6 linked regions of the Homo sapiens genome follow. The protein of the gene in region 1 interacts with the protein of each later gene in a pairwise test. Each region holds a gene or a part of one and is shown on either strand. Other genes may lie near its edges. The genes, in order: SLIRP, EXOSC8, MTUS2, AMOT, CCDC102B and DMRTB1.

Region 1 (3,498 bases):
AAAACATAGGCCAGGTGCAGTGGCTCAATCCCAGCACTTTGGGAGGCTGAGGTGGATGGATGGCTTGAGGTCAGGAGTTTGGGACCAGCCTGGCCAACATAGTGAAACTCCATCTCTACTAAAAATACAAAAATTAGCTGGGTGTGGTGGCCCATGCCTGTAGTCCCAGCTATCTGGGTGACTGAGGAAGGGGGATCACTTGAACCCAGGAGGCAGCGATTGCAGTGAGCTGAGATCACGCCTCTGCACTCCAGCCTGGGCGACAGAGCAAGGCTGTCTCAAAAAAAATAACTCAGTCCAGGTGTGGTGGCTCATGCCTGTAATCACAGCACTTTGGGAGCTGAGGTGAGTAGACTGCTTGAGTGCGGGAGCTCGAGACCAGCCTGGGCAATATGGTGAAGCCCCATTTCTACAAAGAGTACAAAAAATTAGTCAGGTGTGGTGGCACACGACTAATCCCAGCTACTCAGGAGGCAGAGGCAGAAGGATCCCTTGAACCCAGGAGTTCAAGCCTGCAGTGAACTTGATTGTGCCACTGCACTCCAGCCTGAGTGAGAGAGAGAACCTGTCTCAAAAAAGGAACCAGGATTTCCAACTAGAGTACAATGAATGGAACAAAAAAATATTTTTTTTGTCATATTTTATTTTGTTTTACCAACATCAAAGCCGCCTTTTATTTAAATCTAAGATCTATTCTTTGCAGGTCCTATTTTATTTATGGACCAATAAAAATCTATTCATTTTTTTGCAAGGAACTTTTTATTTAAATGCTCTTGAAAAAATTGAAGTTTTCAAACTTACAGAAAATATTTCATGTCCATAATACATGTGCCCAACTTTTCTATTCAACTATATAAAATTCCATTGCATCAGTGACTTAATATCTAATCAATCCCAGTGATGAACATTTAAGTTTCTTCTTCTTACTTGACATTAAATAATGCTGCTTTGGAATATTCTTGACCACACATTTCTGTAGGATAAATTCTTAGAAAAGTAACCGCTAGATCAAAGCAAATATAAATTCTTAACTTTGGTATTTTGCCAACTACACAACAGAACTGAAGGTACCAGTTGAACTTCTCAACAACTTGAGTGCCAGATTCCCTACACCTTCACCGGCACTATATATAACTAATCTGTTAGTCTTTGGGAGTCAAGTAACATTAAACCAAGAATTAAGAATTTAAGTTCCTTTATGTTGTTATTTTACCACAGCCCTTACAGTGCTGCAAGGAAAAAAGGGTTTCAGTGAAGTGTGTGTGAACTCTATGTACTCACATCACACCCTAAAAAAGCCCACAGAAAAATACAGCCCAGGATAAATTTATAGGCTGATTTCTAAACCCTCACAAGAAAGCAAAGGAAATGTAATTAATATAAAAATATTGTTTTATTAGTTATAAATCTAAAAAAGAAAATGGTACTCAATGAAGATAAAACTTAAAATATCCTCTGCCAATTATTAGAAATCTCAAGTCCTTATTAGAATACTGTAGTAGGCAGAATTCTAAGATGGGCCCCATGATCTCCATGCATTCCCCATGTTACACCCTATATAATCTCCTCCCCTCCTTGGGTGGAGGAGAAACCTGACTTGCTTCTAACCAAAAGAATACAGCGAAAGTAATGGGATGTCACTCCTGTGATTATGTTCTGTATAAGATGCCATCTTAAGCAGACTGGAGAAGCCCTTGCTGGCTTTAAAGAAGCAAGCTGCCATATTGTAAGACAGCCTACAGATAAACTAGGTAACAAGGAACTGCAGGGAGTTCCTAGGTGAGAGCAGCTCCCAACTCAGAGCCAAAGGTCAACAAGAAAACAGACCTCAGTCCTACAGTTAAAGATGAATTATGGCCGGGCATGAAGGCTCACACCTGTAATCCCAGCATTTTGGGAAGCCCAGGCGGGCGGGTCACTTGAGGTCAGGAGTTCGAGACCAGCCTGGCCAACATAGCGAAACTCCATCTCTACTAAAAATACAAAAAATTAGCCGGGCGTAGTGGCGGGCGCCTGTAGTCCCAGCTACTCAGGAGGCTGAGGCAGGAGAATGGCGTGAACCCAGGAGGCAGAGCTTGTGGTGAGCCGAGATCGCGCCACTGCACTCCAGCCTAGGCCACAGAGTGAGACTCCGTCTCAAAAAAAAAAAAAAAAAAAAAATTAGCCGGTCGTGGTGGCGCATGCCTGTAGTCCCAGCTACTCAGGAGGCTGAGGCAGGAGAATGGCTTGAACCCAGGAGGCAGAGGTTGCAGTAAGCTGAGACTGCACCACTGCAACTCCAGCTTAGGCAAGGGAGAAAGACTCCATCTCAAAAAAAAAAAAAAAGGAATTTTGCCAACCACATGAGGGAGCTTGCAAGTCAGTCTTTTTCCCCAGTTGACCCTTTGATGAGACACACCACAGCCCCAGCTGACACCTGGAATATATAGCTATGTGAGATCCTAAGGAGAGGACCCAGCTAAACTGTGCTCAGCTGTGAGAGATGTGTTGTTTTTGAGCCATTACGCTTGTGGTATTTTGTTATACAACAATAAAAAAACTAACACAAATACCTATGATAAAGCTTTTTCACTTTTTAATCAAGTATCACTCAAAATGTAATCAATAAAGACTGTAGGCCGGGCACAGTGGCTCACGCCTGTAATCCCAGCACTTTGGGAGGCCAATGCAGGAGGATTGCTTGAAGCCAGGAGTTCAAGATCAGCCTGGGCAACATGGCAAGACCCCCATCTCCACAAAAATAAGCCAGCACAGTGGCTCACACCTGTAATCTCAACATTTTGGGAGGCCGAGGTGTGCGGATAGCTTGAGCCCAGGAGTTCGACGAGACCAGCATAAGCAACATGGCGAAACCCCATCTCTACAAAAAATACAAAAATTACCCAGGTGTGGTGGTGCATGCCTGTAGTCCCAGCTACTCAGGAGGCTGAGGTGGGAGGATCACCTAAGCCTGGGAGGCAGAGGTTGCAGTGAGCCATGACTGCATCACTGCACTCCACCTGGGGTGACAGAACAAGACCCTGTCTCTTAAAGAAAATGAAAATTAAAAAAATTTTCCAGTCTGGACAGTATGGCGAAACCCTGTCTCCACTAAAAAATACCAAAAAAGTTAGCTGGGCATGGTGGCACATGTCTATAGTCCCAGCTACTCAGGAGGCCAAGGCAGGAAGATCACTTAAGCCTGGGAGGCAGAGGCTGCAGTGAGATCAGGCCACTGCACCCCTGCAGGGGGACAGAGCGAGACCCTGTTGCAAGATAAGAATTTTTTAAAACACTTTAAGCTTTTTTTTCAACAATTTTTGTGAGTGTATAGTAGGTGTATATATTTATTTGGGTATATATTTATATATATTTATATATTATTAGGTGTATATATTTATATATTTATATATATAAATATGTATATTTATTATGGAGTACATGAGATGTTTTGATATAGGCATGCAATGTAAATTAAGCACATCATGGAGCATGGGGTATCTATCCCCTCAAGCATTT
Region 2 (3,165 bases), on another chromosome or scaffold:
TTGCTATAAACCATCATTATACAACAAAATGGTAACTGAAGTTGCTGAGTTACTACAATATAGACTGGCAGGGCAAAGTAACAAATAATTTTGAAGTTTGCCAAGAATCATTTTTAAAGCCCTTAGCAGGCTTCTGTGCCACTGGTGCTGTTTGACTGTGCATTGTCTCAATGTGGTATAGTCCCTTTTTGTTATCTTGGTGCTTTCTCCCTTTTTCAGTTGTGTTGTTTCGTCACTCAGGAAAAGCACCTTTCTACACCTGCCTGCATTTAACATAACTCGATTTTTTTCCCTCCCTTTTGCAGCAGTTGCGATTCTTGCAGCATCAAATGGCTATGGCAGCAGCAGCAGCACAAACAGCTCAGCTACATCATCATCGGCATACAGGCAGCCAGTCAAAAAGTAAAATGAAGAGAGGCACGCCAACCACTCCAAAATTTTGAGTCTTGCATTACTTTTTGTTCCTTTTTTAAAAACACAAGAGCACTGAATCAAAAGAATTGAGTTTCTACTTTTTGTTTTTTTTAATGTGTCAGTATTTTACATTGCTAGATGTACAAACTTTATACAGAAGCACAACCTTATCATTTTTAAATAAAAACAGGGAAATGGTTTAACAAACTAGGGTTGGTTTGCCTAAGTCATTGCTTTTTAAAAATGGTTTCACTATACATAATATATATGGAAGTGACCTAAGAAATAATAGAAACATCTTTCAGAAGAATGTAGTTTGATATTTATTTAGTATAAAACGTTTGTGCACAGTGTTAACAAATACAATTTTTACAAATCTGTTTTGAAAATGTGGTGGCTGTTTATTTGGGTTTCATACTCTTAATTACTTCATCCATCAGTTTTTTAACTTCTTTGTGTCTTGTAACTGCTCGGCTCATACAGTCCTGAAGTTTAGCTCCAGTTAGCCCACTTCCACCTGAAAAATTATTTTGCCAATACTTTTAATCTCAGTTATCATTCCTTTTCAAAAAACATTAATGTCATGTCAAATTATAAAACAAAAAAATTGGATAATGTAAATCAGGGTACAGTCTCAAGATCTACAAGTTAGTTTCACAAGACCTCCAAGTGATTCTAATGTATGTCTTAAGTTTAAGAACCACTGACATATACCATTAAGATGGAAGAACATTTTAGGTAGCTAAGAAACTATACTAAAATTAGGTAAATAAAATATCCCATATTCTATTTGGCCCTCCCTAATTTAAGGCTCACACTGAGTTTTCATCTACATATGTTTAGGACTGAAGTGGCGGGAACATGCCTGGTTTGTGAAGACAACAGAGTTTGCCTTCCTCATCCATTACTATTGTTAAGGTTCCTGTTGCCAGATGTTCCTCCTCTCCAGTAGGGTCAACTATAAGCAAAGTGCTATAAAAAGAAAAAAATATAAGTTATCAATCCATGGAACAAATTTTACTTTAAAATACTAAACATACTATCAGCCTCCCAAGTAGCTGGAATTAACAGGCACACGCCATCACACCCAGCTAATTTTTGTGTTTTTAGTAGAGACAGGGTTTCAACATGTTGGCCAGGCTGGTCTTGAATTCTTGACCTCAGGTGATCCCCTGCCTCAGCCTCCCAAAGTGCTGGGATTACAGGCATGAGCCACCATGCCCGGCCCTGCTCTTCTATTTCTGAACGTGCTAAAATCCTTGGAAAATATTGAAGATAGCTTCAGATAAATCTTATAGTGAAAGAATTGGAAATTAACATTACACAGGTATAAGTAAACCAAGGAACAGGTAATAATTGTGCAGTGACTAGAAATAATTGTGCAGGGACAAGTAGAAACTCAAGTGTCCAGGGAAAACTAGGATGTAGGGTCACCATAGCACTTCCTAAAGAGTTAGAATGCTGAACATCAATTACCCTAATCTTAAATATAGAAAATTTTAAAGTAAGTTTGATTAACTTACTCATCAAACACAGCAAAGGAAGTTGCAACTGGATGAGTTCTAATATTCAAATAACTTTTCTTCTTTAAATTAACTTCTGCTAAAGCAGTTTCTTCATTTATAGTAACTTCAGGCAACTGTACTAAGAAAAGGCAAATTTGTAAAGTAAGTAAGTCTCTAAGAAACAAATGATTTCTAAGCTTTTTTTTTTTTAATTCACCTTTCCCTCTATTTAACTTGCCCAGAACATTTCTTTTTAAAAAGCACCTTACAGCCACTAAGGTAAATATAGAGGATATACATTGCTTTTCACAACATCTGACATTCCTACCTAGTGCTTATTGCATAATTTTTTTTTAAGTTTAAGAAGTCAATGATTTTTTTTTAAATTTATATCTGCCAGGTACTGTTTTAAGCATTTTCATATTTTCATTGTATTCACCTAATCAATACTCTTACAAAGTAAGTACTATTATCCCTATTTTATTATAGATAAGGAAACTTCAGCACAGAGTGAGAGAGCCAGGAATCTACTTTAACCAGTCTATTATAATATTTTGCTGACTTCATTTTCTACCTCCAATTCACTTAACCACTCTACTATAATATTGCTGTGCTAACTTTATATTCCACCTCCAATTATTTGTTCCTACCAATTCATCATTCATCAATGATAGGGAATATGCACAAGTTATTGAAATCTGTAACTAATCAGTCAACCTAGACTCCTTGCTAAGAAACTTCCCTATTACTATGGCCTCACAGTAAAAACAACAGAATCCATTCTACTTCTTTTGGCAATATCACATAAAGAACTATGAGGATACTGGCAGATCTTCACCAATCACCTAGCCAGAAGTTACAACTCTTGTCTCCTTCTCCCACCAATATTAACACTATTTTGGAAAGGACTGAAGTCCTAACTTAAGTAGATGGGTACAGTCAAAGCAGCACTCTAAAGAGCATTCAGTTAGAGAATATACAACTATCAACTATATTTGGAAAGTCATGTCAGCATTACATTCATTAATTTGGAAGCATACGAAAGCAAATGTACATTAAAAGTTTCACAAAACAACATTCTAACCCATGAGTGGGAATATTGCCTTTTTTGTAAGGCTGCTTACCATTTTTTAAAGCCGCTAGCAAAGCAAATGTGCAGGCATCCAAAATGTTTCCATCGTAGTCGAGGCAAATGAGATCACAGTATAGAACCCAGACAAGCTAAAATAGAATTAAACACAAAAGG
Region 3 (4,109 bases), on another chromosome or scaffold:
TTTCACCCACCAGCCTTTATCGGCAAACATTAACTGAGCATCTGTTACGTGCCTAGCACCAGCTGGATGCTGGGAGTTCAGCATGCAGAGCCTTGGCCTCTGTCCTCCGGAGCTCCCAGTCTAGCAGGCAGACACAGACCCCTAGAGCAGCATTTCCAGCAGGGGAGGACACCTGCCATCGTGGAGGCACAAGCCTGGGGCAGGGAGGCCAGGAGAAGGCACCCCCAGCTTCCTGGCAGTCTCAGGAAGGCCCGCGGCTCTTCACTGCTATTGTGCTGTTGTCATTGTCAATTGCCAGCTGCGCGGCTGTCTCTCCTTTCGGAGCTTCCGGGCAGCATACCCACTCCAGCTCTCCGCTTCCCTCCTTTCAGTCGCTGGCCTTTGCTCTGTCCAGTGGACAGCCAGTGCCTCCCCTGACCGGGCAGAGGGCCTGTGGGATGATGGGTATTGGCCAGAGAGGCTCTGGGAACAGATGTGTCATTGGGCCAAATGGAAATCATGATTCAACCAAAGTTCTTGGTCACTGGGTCACCCTGGTCCCTGTTCTCCCTGCGGTCATCATGGCCTCCTCCCTTTGCCCTGCACCATTGTCCTGACCTCAGGTTCAGTGTCCACTAGCATGATTGCTACTTATTTGTCATTGTGCCCATGCAGACAGCTGTCGGAGGAAAATGCTAACCTCCAGGAATATGTTGAGAAGGAAACCCAGGAGAAGAAGAGATTGAGCCGAACCAATGAAGAGCTGCTTTGGAAGCTCCAAACTGGGGACCCGACCAGTCCGATTAAACTCTCGCCCACATCTCCCGTTTACCGCGGCTCCTCCTCGGGGCCCTCCTCTCCGGCCAGAGTCAGCACAACACCCAGATGACGCCACTACACGGCCTGCGGGAGCTCCGGCTTCTCGTCCTCCGGTCTCCACCCTGAGGGAGCACCGACCCGGTGCCGCCGGAGCTGGCCCTGTGCGCATGCTCAGTAGCTGCGAATGCATCCTAGGCGCGTCCTCCTCTGATCCCCGTGTAAGACTGCCCTGGTGTCGGCACTTAGGAATGTGTAAATGGTAAAGTCTGATGTGCAAACGTTTTACCATAGTTAGAGCCAAAAGAAAGACACTTGCAATTGTTCTTGAGCAATGAACTTTCACTGCAGAATTTCAGGTTAGTTACAAAAAGCTCAGTTTTCAATATACATTGAATAATCATTGTGTACTGCACCGATATGTGTGTATATTTAGATATACGTATATACACATGCTGCGGTTCTGAATTTCATTTTTTATAACATGAAGTGCTGACATATTTTAGTGAAGGTCAGCAGTTTTCTAACTTGTGCCTAAGAATTATTGGGAAATGAAAATGCATTTCTATCTAGCTTCCCAGGAATATTTCTACCCAAAATAGAAAAAGGAAAAAAAAAAAGATACAGAGAAGAAGCGCCTTTCAACTCACCACCAAGTGGTACTCTCTTTAACACGAACACCAGCTATTTGTGAACGGTAACTGCCTTTGGAACAATCAGCTTCTCAGTCAACATGATGTGAGATCACTATTATTCCATTCGCAAGTTTTAATTATTGATACTCCTGTCATGAGCGGATAAGGGAGAGCAGTGGGAAACCCTAAGGGGGTTTAGCAGTTTTGCAGATGTTACCCATGACAGTGACTCATCTCTGATAGTCTTGTAAACACAAGTTTTGCTTTTTTCCTAAATGGCATCTCAGACTCGGTCATTAAGCTATTGTTGCACCCTCCGGAAAACATGGCAGAGCATGACCTTTGAGTAAGAGTGAGGATGACCTTGCAGATGACTGTGCCCATTCGCGCTCCATCCTCATGAAGGAAATTGCTGCCAAGGTCTGTATTTTGACCAGGCACAGAGGGGGAACATCACTCCAGCTTTCCATGTGGTTCACTCTGATGCGATGCTGTAAATGATCAACTCTTTGAAATAGGACCCTCAGGCCCCCATTTCCTAGCAGCCCCCCTTCAGTTTGGTTCTACAACTCAACCCCTTCACTGCACATTGAGATGGCTCAGGGGTTCTAGCAGGGGCTTCCAGAAAAAAAAAACACCATTTCTGTCCCGGGGGACCAGTTCTGAGCTGTGCTAGATCATCACACGACCACCCAGAAACCCACTTGCACTTCCTGCTGGATGATCAGGCAACGCTGCTGCTGACCGTGCTCCCATCTTAGACCCAGAAGGTTCTCCCAAACAGAGGAGCCCAGTGAAACAGCCAGCCAGGGGGCACCAGCTCCTGGACTGGCATCTGTCTCTAAAATGGTAGAATTAGGATATGAACAGTACTCATGTAGTGGTGTGGAAGATTAGGAGCATGATACACAAAAGGAAGAAGTAGTTTTAACAGATATGGTGATGATGATGATGCCCTTGTTTCCTGTATGTGACAAAGACCCTGCACTTTCTCCCTGAGACCCCCCCAAAATTGTCCTGAGCACAGGCCTGTCTTTGAGCGTGCCCAAGGCGAGAAGAACCATGAGGGGGTCCTGCAGGGGCCGGAGCCATGGAACGGGGAAGAAAACAGCCCGCGGACGGGGTCGGCTTGTCCAGGGCACGCCTGCTCGGCACACGTGTTGCCAACGTGAAGGCAGACATGGTCCCTGGCCCTAGGATGAGTCCACGCTGGGCTTCCGGGCCTCAGGTGCATCTCCAGCCAACCTCCAAGGGTCTTGCTCCTTCTGGGGACGTACACAGTAAATCCACATGGAAACACCACCATTTCTCTTTGCTTTAGTGGCTCTGCATGATACTGTGATATTGAGTTGGGCATTCCATTAGAGTAGATCTTGCCACATTGACTAAATACACAAGTATTTATTCTAGTAGCAGGCACAACCTGCAAACACAAATTCAGTTACAGCTTAGCTGTCCGAATTAGGAACCGCTTACATAGCCGCACCTGCTAAATGCAGTTACACAGCAATACTGACTTCCGTGTGATGCTAGAACGTGGTACAGTGTATTAGGCTGCTGTGGTCAGAGTTGTAGCATCGTTAGCACTAAGTAATTCCTCATTAGGTGGACTTCGGTGAGAGCTTTGCCCTAACCTGCCCTGACCTTGGGTACTTGAGCTAATTTCCACGTGGCCCTGGCTTCGTGGTTTGTTTGTTTTTTTTCTTTTGTTACGGACACCCATCATGTATGGCTCCTCATCTGAGCCATCACCGCTCCCGAAACACATGGGGCGGCAGCTGCTGTGCCTCCTTCTCAATTCTTCCACCCCCCCACACCATCAGAATTCGGATTTCTCTCCACGTGGCGTCTGCCTCTGTCCCCTTCCAGGCTGGAGCGACGTTTCCACGTTCGGATGCTGCAGCCTCTGCACCTGCCTCAGACAGACCCACCAGATACCACCTGTCTCTTCGTGGCATTTGGGAGATGCGTGGGCGGCCTGCCCCCCGACCGCCGCCCCTGCCCACCACATGCTGGGACAAGGTTCTGGCTGGATGTCAGAATGGATGGGGGTGGGGGCAGCCCTGGCCGTGATTAGTTGAATGAATGGGGTCACAACATCCCTTTTCCTGCCCCTACAGTTTGTGTTGCATATTTGTGTTTAAAGCCTATTAAAATAAACTTGAGGGACTTTCTGCGATATCTACTTGATGTAACTGGAGACCTGTCCCTCTCAGGCTGGGGATCCCAGGCAGGGAGGCAAGGGGGGTGGCGTTTGCAGGCTGGACCCCTTTTCTGTGTGTGCCGGGGTTGGGTGATGGTCCGTGAGAGAAGTCTTGTAGAGACCCCCTCTCCCCTGACTCCGCAGGTCCCAGGTCCCTGCGCCCACCCCTCCAGCCTGGGGGCTTGAGCAGCCCCTCCCCTGGACTTGGGAGCTCAGTGCCTCTGCTCTGCAAGGCCGGGTGCGCTGGAGTTGGCTGGAAGGAGGACATAAAAGGTCATTCACTCATTTCAACCTGAAAGTGCTTGCTCCCCCCATCCCGATGGCCTTCAGTTTGGGCTGCAGCCGGTTTAGCCAGCTGGACCTCGAAGTGTCCCACAGGTGTCTGGCACCATCACAAGGGAGACAGCTGGGTTCGCAGGTTCCCTGTGGTGGTTTTGCAGGGTCTGTGGGAGTGGCAGCTATTTCAGCGAGATCAG
Region 4 (3,500 bases), on another chromosome or scaffold:
ATTGTTTGAATTTATACGAATACTGGGACTGTTAACAGGTGGCTATACATCGACGTTTTCAATGTGCTTAAATTTGTTTAAATTTTCCATATTCTAGATCATTTTTTATTGAAGAGCACAGTATGTGTGGAAGACAGTGTATAACACGTAGTTTGGAAGTGGGAAGCTAGAGAGAATTGAGTGTGTGCTGTTTTGTATAGTTACTATCCTGTGCAGCAGCTGGAGAAAGCACTCACCTCAGGCTTACAAAAGGGAATAGTTTCAGGAGCTATGTAAGCTGGAAAAAAGGTAGGGAGTTTTGGGGTGCAGAAGGGTACTGGAGCTAATTTTTTCTTCCAGTTTCCCAGCTACCCTGCCCCAGGGAATTGTGTTTGTCTTCATTTCAGTGGTGCTTTGGAAATGGATTCTTTTGGTTCCCTCCTGGAGGTTCATACATTCATATATATGCTCTGGAGTAATTTATGCATTTGGATAATTAATATATTGCTTTCAGATGCTGGGAGAGTACATTAACTGAGTGATGCGCAACTTCCTCTCTCTTAGGGAATTAGACCATCAGAGGCCTTGATGGAGAGTTGCATGGGGTGCTATATGCAGACTTCCATGGTTTGTGTGTAGCCATGAACACAGCTTGCTTGCATTTAGTAAGACCAATCAGCTTAGTGTTTATTTCTTCTACAGCACAGATTCACTGGCTGGGTCTCCAGTCTCAAATTGCCAATCATTTGCAAAGTGAGGAAGGATCTTTGTTGACAGGTTGAATGCTTTGAATTTCTGGTGACTACTTTGAAATAACTTGTTTTGTTTGTCAAATTCTAAGCATATGTCTTAAAAGGCATTTTTGACTATCACCTCCAAGGGAATAGCTTGAGAAACCCAAAGTACTATGCTGCAGTCGGGGGAGAGGTGGATTGCAGCAGTATCCTCAACTACCTCTTCTCACTGTCAGTGACACCATCTTGGAATACCTTTGGGAAGCAGCAGGAAATGTGCATGTGGGTAGAGATCAAAGGAGGCAATGGCTCCAAGCCTTGCCATAGGGCTGCCTCCAAGGACACAGAAGGATGCCAGTTGCCACAGGTCCCTGCCCTGTGTCACCTGTCTGCCCTTCATTAAGGTGAGAAATCTGCAGATAGCATCATTAAGATCAGTTTTAAGGGGTATAGGGAGGGTGAGGGAAGTGGGGGGTGTTAGGTAAGGGTTGGGGGTAGAGGTTTTGGGATGTCTTAGTTAGAAACCAGATTAATAGAAGAGTAGGCCTGATATATTACATCATGAGCCATAGTGGTGGGAAAGAACTTTAGCAATATAGCCCTACCTCCTCATTTTAGTGATGAGGAATCTGAGAACTGGAGAGGTTCAGTGACTTTTTGAAAGTCATACAACACAGCTAACCATTATGCCAATCACCATGCTTATTTTGGGAAACTCTTTATCTTTTTTAAATTCCATTTTATGAAAAGGCATCTTCATGGTCCAGGGAATATGTATCTTGTAAAATGTACCTGGTTGGAGTAGCTTGTCCAGTCTTGACAAACTACTGAATTTCTGTCTTGCCTCTCCTTCAGTGCCTTTTAAAAGGTTTTCCCTTTTCTGATCTGCATTTCAACATAGAGTCACATAAATGTCCCCCTGAGAAACCAATCCCACTTCTTTCTAGGAGATTGGGTATCTTAGATAATCTTTTGGGGTTCCTCTGTGAGTATAGGAATGGTATCCTTCCTAATTATCTTCCAAAGGAATTATTTTGTGTGTGTGCCTGTGTGTGTGTAGAGACATAAAGGAGGGTGATGTGATTTTCAGCTAGTCCTTTCACATTTTCAATAATGAGGTAATCATGTTACATACACATTAGTCCTCAGTTATAAAGTGAATCTCAGATAGAAATTAAAAGTGCAGTTGTGTTAAGACTCTTTCATACTACCCTTTAGTCATAAGGAGAAAAAAACACTCAAATAGTAGAAGCAGCAAGTAGCAAACTTCAGGAGAGCTACTTTCTATCCAAATAATTTAAAAAACACTTTTCACCTACTCCTTTCATGGTTATAACACATTGGCAGACTTTTTGCTGGCTCTGGGAGCCATGATTTTAATCACATTCTGCAAGGTGACAAATGTCATACATTCCACATTGTGTGGTAGCCATCTCTTTAGACTCATGTGTTTTGGGGAAAGGAAGAAGTTCTTGGCTGAGTACTATTTTGAACTTTCCAGAACCCTCTCACACCAGAGACAGTTCTTCTCTGTTCAGTTTCCAATCCCCGATAATTTGCTAAAATAACATTGTACATCCAAGAGAGGGAAGAAGAGTATGTCAGTATATTATGCAGAAGATAGATACAGCCTTTTCAGAAGATCTCCACTAGTTTTTGTTCCAAAAATTCAAGTTTATGGGAGAAATCTCAATTAGCCACCTTTTCACAGTTGTGTGGATATAACATTTGGGGGATCTTTCTGGACTCCTACCTATCTGTGCATTTTACCGGCACCTCAGGAAAGGAGGGTGACCAGGTTGTCTTAGCTTGTACTGCTTGGTGATCTCTGAGGACCTTCTAATTCAGTTGTACCCCAGTGTTCCATGTATAGAAAAACTTCATTAGAACAAACTTTACTTGATATGAAACTCCTATTAACAGTCTTTTTTTGAAATAAAAAGTAGCTTGAGCTTTCTTTTAAAATCATGTATCTTGATTGTTGATTTAATGAAGGATTTCCTTTTAATGCTGCTTTTGAGCTTCAAGGTAATAGGACAGCAGGAACCTAAAATATCTGCCATCATCTGCCATAGGAAAGATACCCAGAGACCCATCATGTTCTCTTTTTGTTGTTACACTGTTGGGTGGGTATAACAATTGGAAAATGAACAAACTGATTGATTGTGCAAACTACTTTTTATGACAAGCCTAAACCCTCATAATGCGGCAGCTTAAAGTGTATACATATGCACTAACTTTGATCAATTATATTCTCATATCTGTTAGCTACACAGTCTCCTATTATCTCAATTGCTTATGTGCATATGGAATATGTTACTTAAAACGTGTGCATTCTTACTGAAAATGTTTTCAAAGGAAGGTATCAGCTGTGGGCTAATTGCCACCAATTTCAGCCTGCCACGATTCTTGGAAATATGTCTTCCAAGTGCCATCCATCATCAGTAGGACAAGTGTCGGGAGTTTGTTTATTTTTTTCCAGTAGCAACGATGGGTTACATGGAGCCATGAAACCTCCTTCTGGCCTCCCTTGTGATTAATGGCATGTGTTTGTAAAATGGATAGCTGGGGTTGGCAGATGGCTAGAGAAGAATCGCCTTTGGTTTAAAATGTATGTGGTCCCCTAATGATTGTGACCCCATTCTGTAATCAACTGAGCTAGTTCCAATAAAGTTAAGCAGGTTTAAATCCACTTTGTGCCTATCTTTTCACTGACAATAAAGTTAGCTATTTTAAAATGCAGTACCGTGTGGAAAATGCTTTGGTGTTTACCCGACAGAGGCTTTA
Region 5 (3,500 bases), on another chromosome or scaffold:
AATTTTTATCCTTTTGAGATATTTTTAAAATGCCTCATACTCTAATCATCCTAAATAGTTTGCAAGGAATTTTGAGTAGTTGACCCTCTTCTGTCCCTACAATACCACAAATATGGTATTTGTGCTATTGTATTTATGGTATTATATGTATGGTATCATACTAATTTTACTAGTAAGAAAACTTAATAAGATAATAAATTTCTTGTCCAGAATTAGACAATGAGTAAATGGTGGGACCAGGATGAGATTCTAATAGATTTTCTACTGTAAAGAGTTACTCTGCTGTATAGATTTATGCAATAAATTACATTGATGTCTCGATATCCATATGCCTAAATATATGAGAGAAACATACATTTAAAAAATTTATATTACCACAGTGTTTCTCCTTTAAGTGTTACATTGCTAGACAAAGTGCTTTCTAATTACTTTGATTAATTTCACTTCTCACAAACCTTGTCAGATTAAATAAGTTGTCTACATTGGGGTAGATGAAGTTACCTGACTAAGCTTATCCAGAGAATAAATGGTGAAGTCACATTAGAATGCATAGCTCAGGACTATAATTTAGAGACAAAAAAGCTACTATTCACTTCTACTTACAATGTCCACAGAAAAATTATAGCAGACGAATATAATTTCATCTCATAATAATAAGCACTTAGATGTAATAAAACTGCAGAAAATAAATACATTTGATATTGCCTCTTTAAAACTTAAAGACATTAAAATAACAAAAACCAAAGGAGATATTAAAATTATCTTAAATCAGAATTTCTAGAGTAGGCTTCTGGTCATTGATAGTAATAAAAATCTCCTCATGTTGATATACCATGCAGCCTTGGTTGAGAACCATGGGAAGAGGGCAGAGGTTGACAAAACTTTAGTGTAAAGGACCACAAAGTAACTATTTTGGGCTTTACTACCTATATGGTCTCTCTCTCAACAGCTTAACTTACCCATTGTGTGTGAAGGCAGTTATAGGCAAAGTGTGAAGAAATGAGCGTGGCCATGTCCCAATACGATTTTATTTGTGGTATAGTTTGAATTTTATATAATTTAATGTTGAAAATGTTTTAATGTAAAATTTTAAAATATAAAATGATAAATTATATATATTTTTTCAATATAAAATTAAATTACTTTTTGCATTACTTTTTGGCAACTGCAAATGTTGCATAGATAGAGAGATAGAGAGATAGAGATAGAGAGATCCATATAGCATCTGTCTATTCCCTAGATAATTGAGTGAATGAATAAATGAAATATATCCAATCAAAATTGCCCATGAAATGATATTGTGTCTTCTCCACTGAGAATGTTTATCAGTTGAGAGTGGAGATTAATGTTCCCAAGAGCAGCAGTTCTTCACTTGACACATATATTTGAAAAATATGGTACATATGGCTGTAGAGATAGTTACATGAACCAAGAGGAAAAGTATATTTATCTACGGTTTGGCCTGATCTTAGGATTTTTGTATTTTTCTCATGTTTTCAAACAAATAGAATTTTCTTTTTAAAATTGTATCAGTGGACATATCCATGAACTTTTCTTAATGGGAGTCTGGTTGTGGGTGGCATTATCTTTTGGCAATTGCAAATGCTGCATGCTGCTTCTTTGTGTTTTCTGTGTGTAGCTAGAGAGATTGCAAGCTGAAAATACCTCGGAGTGGGACAAGAGGGAAATACTTGAAAGAGAAAAGCAGGGACTGGAGAGAGAAAATAGAAGGCTGAAGATCCAGGTGAAAGAAATGGAAGAGCTTTTGGATAAGAAAAATAGATTAAGTGCAAACTCTCAAAGTCCTGATTTCAAGATGTCACAAATTGATCTGCAAGAAAAAAACCAGGTATGGGTGCTCCTTGGAGCAAATTCTCACTGTCTAATCTCACTCTGATGCCTACGCAGAGTCTGTCTTCACTCGTACACGCCTCCACATTTGGATATTTCCTTTTGTGCCAGCTAATACCTGATACTCCTTGCTCTTTTGCCCACTAGGATGTAAAATAACGTTCATGCATCTGAAACAAAGTGTGTCAAATGTTAAAATATGACAAATCTTCAGACAGTTTCAAGATTTCCAAAAGGAAGAAGAAAAATGAAGTAAGAAATAGAACTTTCTGGTTTTTTGTTTCTTATTAAAGCTTTGTCTCAGTATTTTCTAAGCTAATGATCTTATTTCCAATAAAGATTTTTTCATTAATTCAAGCGACTATACAATAAGCATTTGCTGGTAGCTATGGTAAGTATCTGCATAAACATTTAAATTTAGCTGAAACTCACTGCTTTCTGGTTCTTTTTTGTCAGTTTCAGAACGATTATTTTTGAGCTAATGAAATGCATAATTTTTCAAATAATTTTTCCAGCCTGTGGTATAAATCTTAAAACCAGGATAACATTCAGAATTTAAATTTGGGAAATTTAATTTTGGATGTGTTTTATCCCCAAGCCAGTAGATATAGTTTATGCTATAGACGGACATTTTTTTGATAGTTTACAGATTTTTAAATGTGCTTTTAATGGCAGTCTTATAGTTTTAATGTGGGTTCGTGTCAATGTGCTGTAAATTATATTTACCTTGTTTCTATTTTTCAATTATATATAGCATCTTAATGCACAATTCTATTTCTCACTCAGTTTCTTTAACAGTTTTAAAAGGTGAATTTGATAAGTTCATAGTTTTGAGATATTTAAGTCATTCATACTCACATAAGCTCTAAAACCTAAATGGCCAGAAAAATTGAATTCCATATTATTTCATCATTCTTTCATGAATCTAGGGATTTATTGCAAATGCAAGATTAAATTGTATTAGTGTTTCATGACCTAGCAATGCAAATATCTAAAGTTAAATGTTATAGTCCGTGACCATAATTTTCTATTATATTGATTCATAAACTATCCATAATAATGTATTTGATTCTGACATATGTACACTGATAAATCTGTAGACATCTTATTTTGGAGATCTCTACTCTAAAAAGTGCAGAATTATCTCAATTATGGACTGTGGTTTGATTATAGAAATACTTTTTATTTGATTTATTCAAACAAGACAAACATTTATTCGTATTATTCTCTGTGTCAGTCACTGTTCTATATGCAGGTAATGAGAATATTAATCAATGAATCATTATCCCCACCCAGCATGGGCTTAGAGTCTATATAGGGAGTCAAACACACAAATTTTTATAAATAAAACATTATAGTGATTGCTAAGAATAAAGTGGAAGGGGACACAGATTAAGAAGCAATTGATTATATTTGATTTTGGCACCTTTCTAGTTGTATCAAAATGTATTAATATAAAGTATATCTTTCGGGAAAAATTGAGACCTGTTTGGAGCTGGCATTGGCGTAACCTGTCATCAGGGCACACCGAGTCCAGACCTGGTCTCTTTGACAATGTAGTTATTTGGGCTGGGACTAAGCAGAACTTGGAAACTGAGAGGATCCTCAAAGGTCTAAGTCAGTGGGTATGCTGATCACTTAGAAGACTG
Region 6 (4,232 bases), on another chromosome or scaffold:
TGTTAGTGGCCCATTTTTTCCTTTTTTTGGACAAAGAAGGGAGGAGAGGGGAGGGGAGGGAAATGGAGGCAGTGGGGTGGTGGGGGGGAGGGGCGGGAGAGAGAGACAGAGAGAGAGAGAGAGAGAGAGAGAGAGAGAGAGAGATGCCTCAGGGTGTCACAAATTTGTTTTTAAAAAATGAATTAATGGCCGGACGCGGTGGCTCACGCCCGTAATCCCAGCACATTGGGAGGCCGAGGCCGGTGGATCACCTGAGATCGGGAGTTCAAGACCAGCCTGGCCAACATGGCGAAAACCCCGTCTCTACTAAAAATACAAAAATTAGCTGGGCATGGTGGCGGGCGCCTGTAATCCAAGCTACTCAGGAGGCTGAGGCAGGAGAATCGCTTGAACCTGGGAGGCGGAGGTTGCAGTGAGCCAAGATCCTGCCACTGCACTACAGCCTGGGTGACAAAGCAAGACTCTGTCTCAAAAAAAAAAAAAAAAACAAAAAAAAACAATTAATGCCCTCGGGTAAACTATGACGTTTGTGCTAACTTTTCAGATGTCCCAAGATTTGGGTTGTTTTACAAGGATAACGAAGTTCATGATGAGGTTAAGCAATCACTGAAGCTAGTGCTAGAAATTTTTTTTAATTTAATTTTTTAGAAAGAGGGGTCTTGCAGAATTTTTTATTTAATTTTTTAGAAAGAGGAGTCTCGCTATGTTGCTCAGGTTGGTCTCCAACTACTGGGCTCAAGTGATCCTCACGAGTAGCTAGGGCTACAGGCACAGGACACTATGCCAGGCTTAGTGCTACAATATTCTGTCTATTTTACTTTAAAATATTCTAAGTATGCTCACTTTGGAAGGCATCAACATCCAGAAATGCATTCCTACATCAAGACTCTCAAGAAACGGGAATTACTGTAAGGGCATACCCTTGAGCAACCATCACACTGCACTGAACTCTTGAGAATATTCTGGAATATCCTGGAAGCATCTCTGCAGGGCAGAGAAGTGAACTGCCACAGAAGGAGCAGCTTTGGGGAGAAGAAATACAGTTTGCCTCTTACAGTATTTTTCTACACCGAGAGCTACATTCCTCCCGAGTTTTAAATTTGTGGACCGTTGAATATCACTCCGCCTTTCATAAAGTTACAAATACCTTCCGTCGGTGGCGGGAACAGAGTTTGGAAAATTACATGCCTAAGACTTCAGATAAGCTAAATGACATACATGCAATAGCATCCCATGAAGAATTTATTCAACCCAATCCATTGCATCTAATTACCCAAAGCACAGAAACTCTCCAAACTGTGCACCCCCCAAAAGGAGGGAAAATGCAAGGTTCCTGCTGCAGTTCCCGGGACACACTGCGAGCCGCTTTGTTACAAGTGTATCCAATGTCCCCAGAACGAGGGACTTGTGGGGCGCGGCTCATCCCAGCGCCACTTGCTCTGCAGCTCCCAGAGGTGGTGGTTGTGTTACGAAGGCTGACCCTGCCAATGGCCGACAAAATGGTGCGCACCCCCAAGTGCTCGAGATGCAGGAACCATGGCTTCCTGGTGCCCGTCAAGGGACACGCGGGCAAATGCCGCTGGAAGCAGTGCCTCTGCGAGAAGTGCTACCTGATCTCCGAGCGCCAGAAGATCATGGCCGCGCAGAAGGTGCTCAAGACGCAGGCCGCCGAGGAGGAGCAGGAGGCGGCCCTGTGTGCGCAGGGGCCCAAGCAGGCCTCCGGGGCTGCGGCCGCCGCCCCCGCCCCCGTCCCCGTCCCGGCCGCGAGCCTCCGCCCGCTGTCCCCGGGGACTCCCTCCGGAGACGCCGACCCGGGACCCGAGGGCCGCGCGGCCGCTTGCTTCTTCGAGCAGCCCCCGCGGGGCCGGAACCCCGGCCCGAGAGCCCTCCAGCCGGTTCTGGGCGGCCGCAGCCACGTGGAGCCGAGCGAGCGAGCCGCCGTGGCGATGCCCAGCCTTGCGGGACCCCCTTTTGGGGCGGAGGCCGCAGGCAGTGGCTACCCTGGCCCCCTAGACCTGCGCAGGCCGATGCGGACCGTGCCCGGCCCACTGTTCACCGACTTTGGTAAGTCGTGGCCTTGGTCCCGCGGTCGACTCCCGGAGCTGGCAGCCCAGGCCAGCCCGGATGGGGAGCTGGCATAGGGGTTCGGGGTGGAGAGAAGTTTTTCCACGGGTAACGGACCTTCCGCTTTGAGAAACCCTTCTTCGAACAGGGATTTGGATTGGGTAACTTTTCGCAAAAAGGAAACGAGAAACAGAAAGGAATGGGCGGTTCAGAGGGCTTTTAACATTTAGCTGTAGTTTGTGCCATTCCGGCATGCAAGAACAAAATGGCGTCCAGTCGACTTAGCAGTGCTTCCTCCTCCGGGGGAGGCTTCGAGGAGCCGAGTCCTACTGCTCTTGCGCACCTCTTCCCGCCATTTCCTTGGGCTGGAGGCTCCTCCTCCAGAATAACAGAATTTTCCTGCCGGCACGTTAGCGCAAGGACGCCTGCGCACTCTTCCCTCCCGGTTCGCGGTCGGGAGGCTCCTCCCCTCAGCTCCGCCCTGGCCCAGTGCGCCTGCGCACCTCTTCCCTCCGTTTCCCCACGTGCAGGTGAGGGGAGCCTGCTTCTTTACTCCACACACGAGAACAGTTGGTCAGTAAAGATGTTGCCTTTCTTTTCTCCCTTCACCTTGTACATAAATTACATTGTTCCCTGTGCCTTGGAGCTTTTGGTATTGAAGTAGTTTCAAGTCACATGTACATTTGAAGCTTTAGAAGCCCCGGGGTTTGGTGCGGACGCGTTTTCCTGGTGTCTCCCCCGTGGTGGTGTGGTGGGACGGGCTCAGGCCGAGGCGGGGGCCCGGGTCACGCTGGACAAGCTCCTGCCCTCTGTGTGCCAGGGCACTGGTCCGGAGGCTCCCGCAGGCTCGTCCCGCCCCCCTGACTTTCCAGGAAAATCTAGGTCCCCAGGGAACGTCCCATCTGACAGGGTCACAGGCCTGAAACTGCAGATCTAGGAGAAGCCACCTTTCTTTTTTCCATCTCAACAGACAAGCAGGGCTGAGCCGAACCATGAGCCAGGCATTCGTGATGGAGGACGCGGGTCACATTTCTTGCCCTCAAGGACCTTGTCCTTGTGGGAGGGACAGGGTTGATCAAAGAGTCACACAAATCAGTGTCCAGGGCTTGAGCCATGGCCGGGTTCACTGTGACCCGGAGGAGGAGGAGGAGCTCGGCACTGAGGCCTCAGAGAGGCAGAGTGCGGGCTGACGGTGTGTGGGGCAGCGGGGAGGTCTGGAGGCGGCCCCGGCCCACAGCGGGCTTGATGGCCGTGCTGAGGACTTTCCAAGAGCAGTGGGGCTGGCTGGAGGATGGAGATGCAGTGAGGGCCCAGCGGAAGGAAGTGCGGGGTGGGCTTTCTGTGCTTGGACGGCAGCGCTGATGACCCCGCCGCCCTGGGCCGCCCTGCGGATGCTTTTCCCAGCGGTGTCTAACACTTCCCTCCTTGCTTGCGTTCTTTAGTGCGCCCTCTGAACATCAACCCGGACCGTGCACTGGGCCCTGAGTACCCTGGTGGCTCCAGCATGCACCCCTACTGCCCGTTCCCGCTGGGCTACCTGGACGCCCCTCCTGGCGTCCCCCTGCAGCAGGGCTTCCGGCATGTGTCCCGCAGCCAGTACCAAGGCGGAGGCTTGGTGAGTCCCACCCCTCACTTCTTGCCAGCTTCCTCCACCCAGTCTGCCCCTGCTGCCTTGATGGATCCTCAGTCCCAGGAAGCCAGCTGTCATAAACTGTGCCCACGCCATGCCAGCCCCCGAGTGCTGGTGGAGGACTAGGCACTGCCCAGGCACAGTGTGTGTGTCTCTGGGAGCACACGTGTGGACCAGTCTGCACCACTCGGCTTGGGCTATGGCCTGTGCTTTTCAGGGCAGTGGGCTGAAAGGCTCTGAGCGTTCAGGATGACCCCTTCCTTGACTGATGCTGATGCTAGAAGGGCCCTTCATTTTGCTGGACTCCAGAAAGGGCATATCACCTTCCTGGGACCACAAAATTTAGGGCAGAGCCAGGACCAGAGGTAGGCTCCCTGCCCACAGGTATAGCACACTTGAGACTGCAGAGGGCTTTCAGGAGGAGGTGGCATTTGAGCGGAGTCATGAAAAATACGGAAACCTTCCCCCAAACACTTGACACCTTAGGAAATACCTGTTGAAAGAATGAAATTTAATCCTTTTATAAGATTAATAAAGG

What was found.
Region 2: the proteins of SLIRP (region 1) and EXOSC8 interact in a two-hybrid assay, tested with the Homo sapiens proteins (one large-scale study listed by BioGRID).
Region 3: the proteins of SLIRP (region 1) and MTUS2 interact in binary tests that used the Homo sapiens proteins (3 or more experiments, as listed by UniProt).
Region 4: the proteins of SLIRP (region 1) and AMOT interact in a two-hybrid assay, tested with the Homo sapiens proteins (one large-scale study listed by BioGRID).
Region 5: the proteins of SLIRP (region 1) and CCDC102B interact in binary tests that used the Homo sapiens proteins (3 or more experiments, as listed by UniProt).
Region 6: the proteins of SLIRP (region 1) and DMRTB1 interact in a two-hybrid assay, tested with the Homo sapiens proteins (one large-scale study listed by BioGRID).

The regions. Positions count from the first base shown.
Region 1 is NC_000014.9:77,711,103-77,714,600, reverse strand, and holds part of SLIRP (SRA stem-loop-interacting RNA-binding protein, mitochondrial isoform 1 precursor), read right to left. Parts: intron 1-3,498. UniProt on the Homo sapiens protein: RNA-binding protein that acts as a nuclear receptor corepressor. Probably acts by binding the SRA RNA, and repressing the SRA-mediated nuclear receptor coactivation. Binds the STR7 loop of SRA RNA.
Region 2 is NC_000013.11:37,006,950-37,010,114, reverse strand, and holds the end of EXOSC8 (exosome complex component RRP43), read right to left. Parts: intron 3,141-3,165; coding exon 3,044-3,140; intron 2,059-3,043; coding exon 1,938-2,058; intron 1,387-1,937; coding exon 1,280-1,386; intron 932-1,279; coding exon 816-931; 3' UTR 501-815; downstream 1-500. Other genes in the region: SUPT20H (transcription factor SPT20 homolog), read left to right, coding at 306-443. UniProt on the Homo sapiens protein: Non-catalytic component of the RNA exosome complex which has 3'->5' exoribonuclease activity and participates in a multitude of cellular RNA processing and degradation events.
Region 3 is NC_000013.11:29,502,339-29,506,447, forward strand, and holds the end of MTUS2 (microtubule-associated tumor suppressor candidate 2), read left to right. Parts: intron 1-654; coding exon 655-868; 3' UTR 869-3,609; downstream 3,610-4,109. UniProt on the Homo sapiens protein: Binds microtubules. Together with MAPRE1 may target the microtubule depolymerase KIF2C to the plus-end of microtubules. May regulate the dynamics of microtubules at their growing distal tip.
Region 4 is NC_000023.11:112,774,832-112,778,331, reverse strand, and holds the end of AMOT (angiomotin), read left to right. Parts: 3' UTR 1-3,455; downstream 3,456-3,500.
Region 5 is NC_000018.10:68,895,580-68,899,079, forward strand, and holds part of CCDC102B (coiled-coil domain-containing protein 102B), read left to right. Parts: intron 1-1,639; coding exon 1,640-1,849; intron 1,850-3,500. UniProt on the Homo sapiens protein: During interphase, forms fibers at the proximal ends of centrioles to maintain centrosome cohesion. During mitosis, dissociates from the centrosome following phosphorylation to allow centrosome separation. Contributes to CROCC/rootletin filament formation.
Region 6 is NC_000001.11:53,457,967-53,462,198, forward strand, and holds the start of DMRTB1 (doublesex- and mab-3-related transcription factor B1), read left to right. Parts: upstream 1-1,432; 5' UTR 1,433-1,487; coding exon 1,488-2,064; intron 2,065-3,506; coding exon 3,507-3,679; intron 3,680-4,232.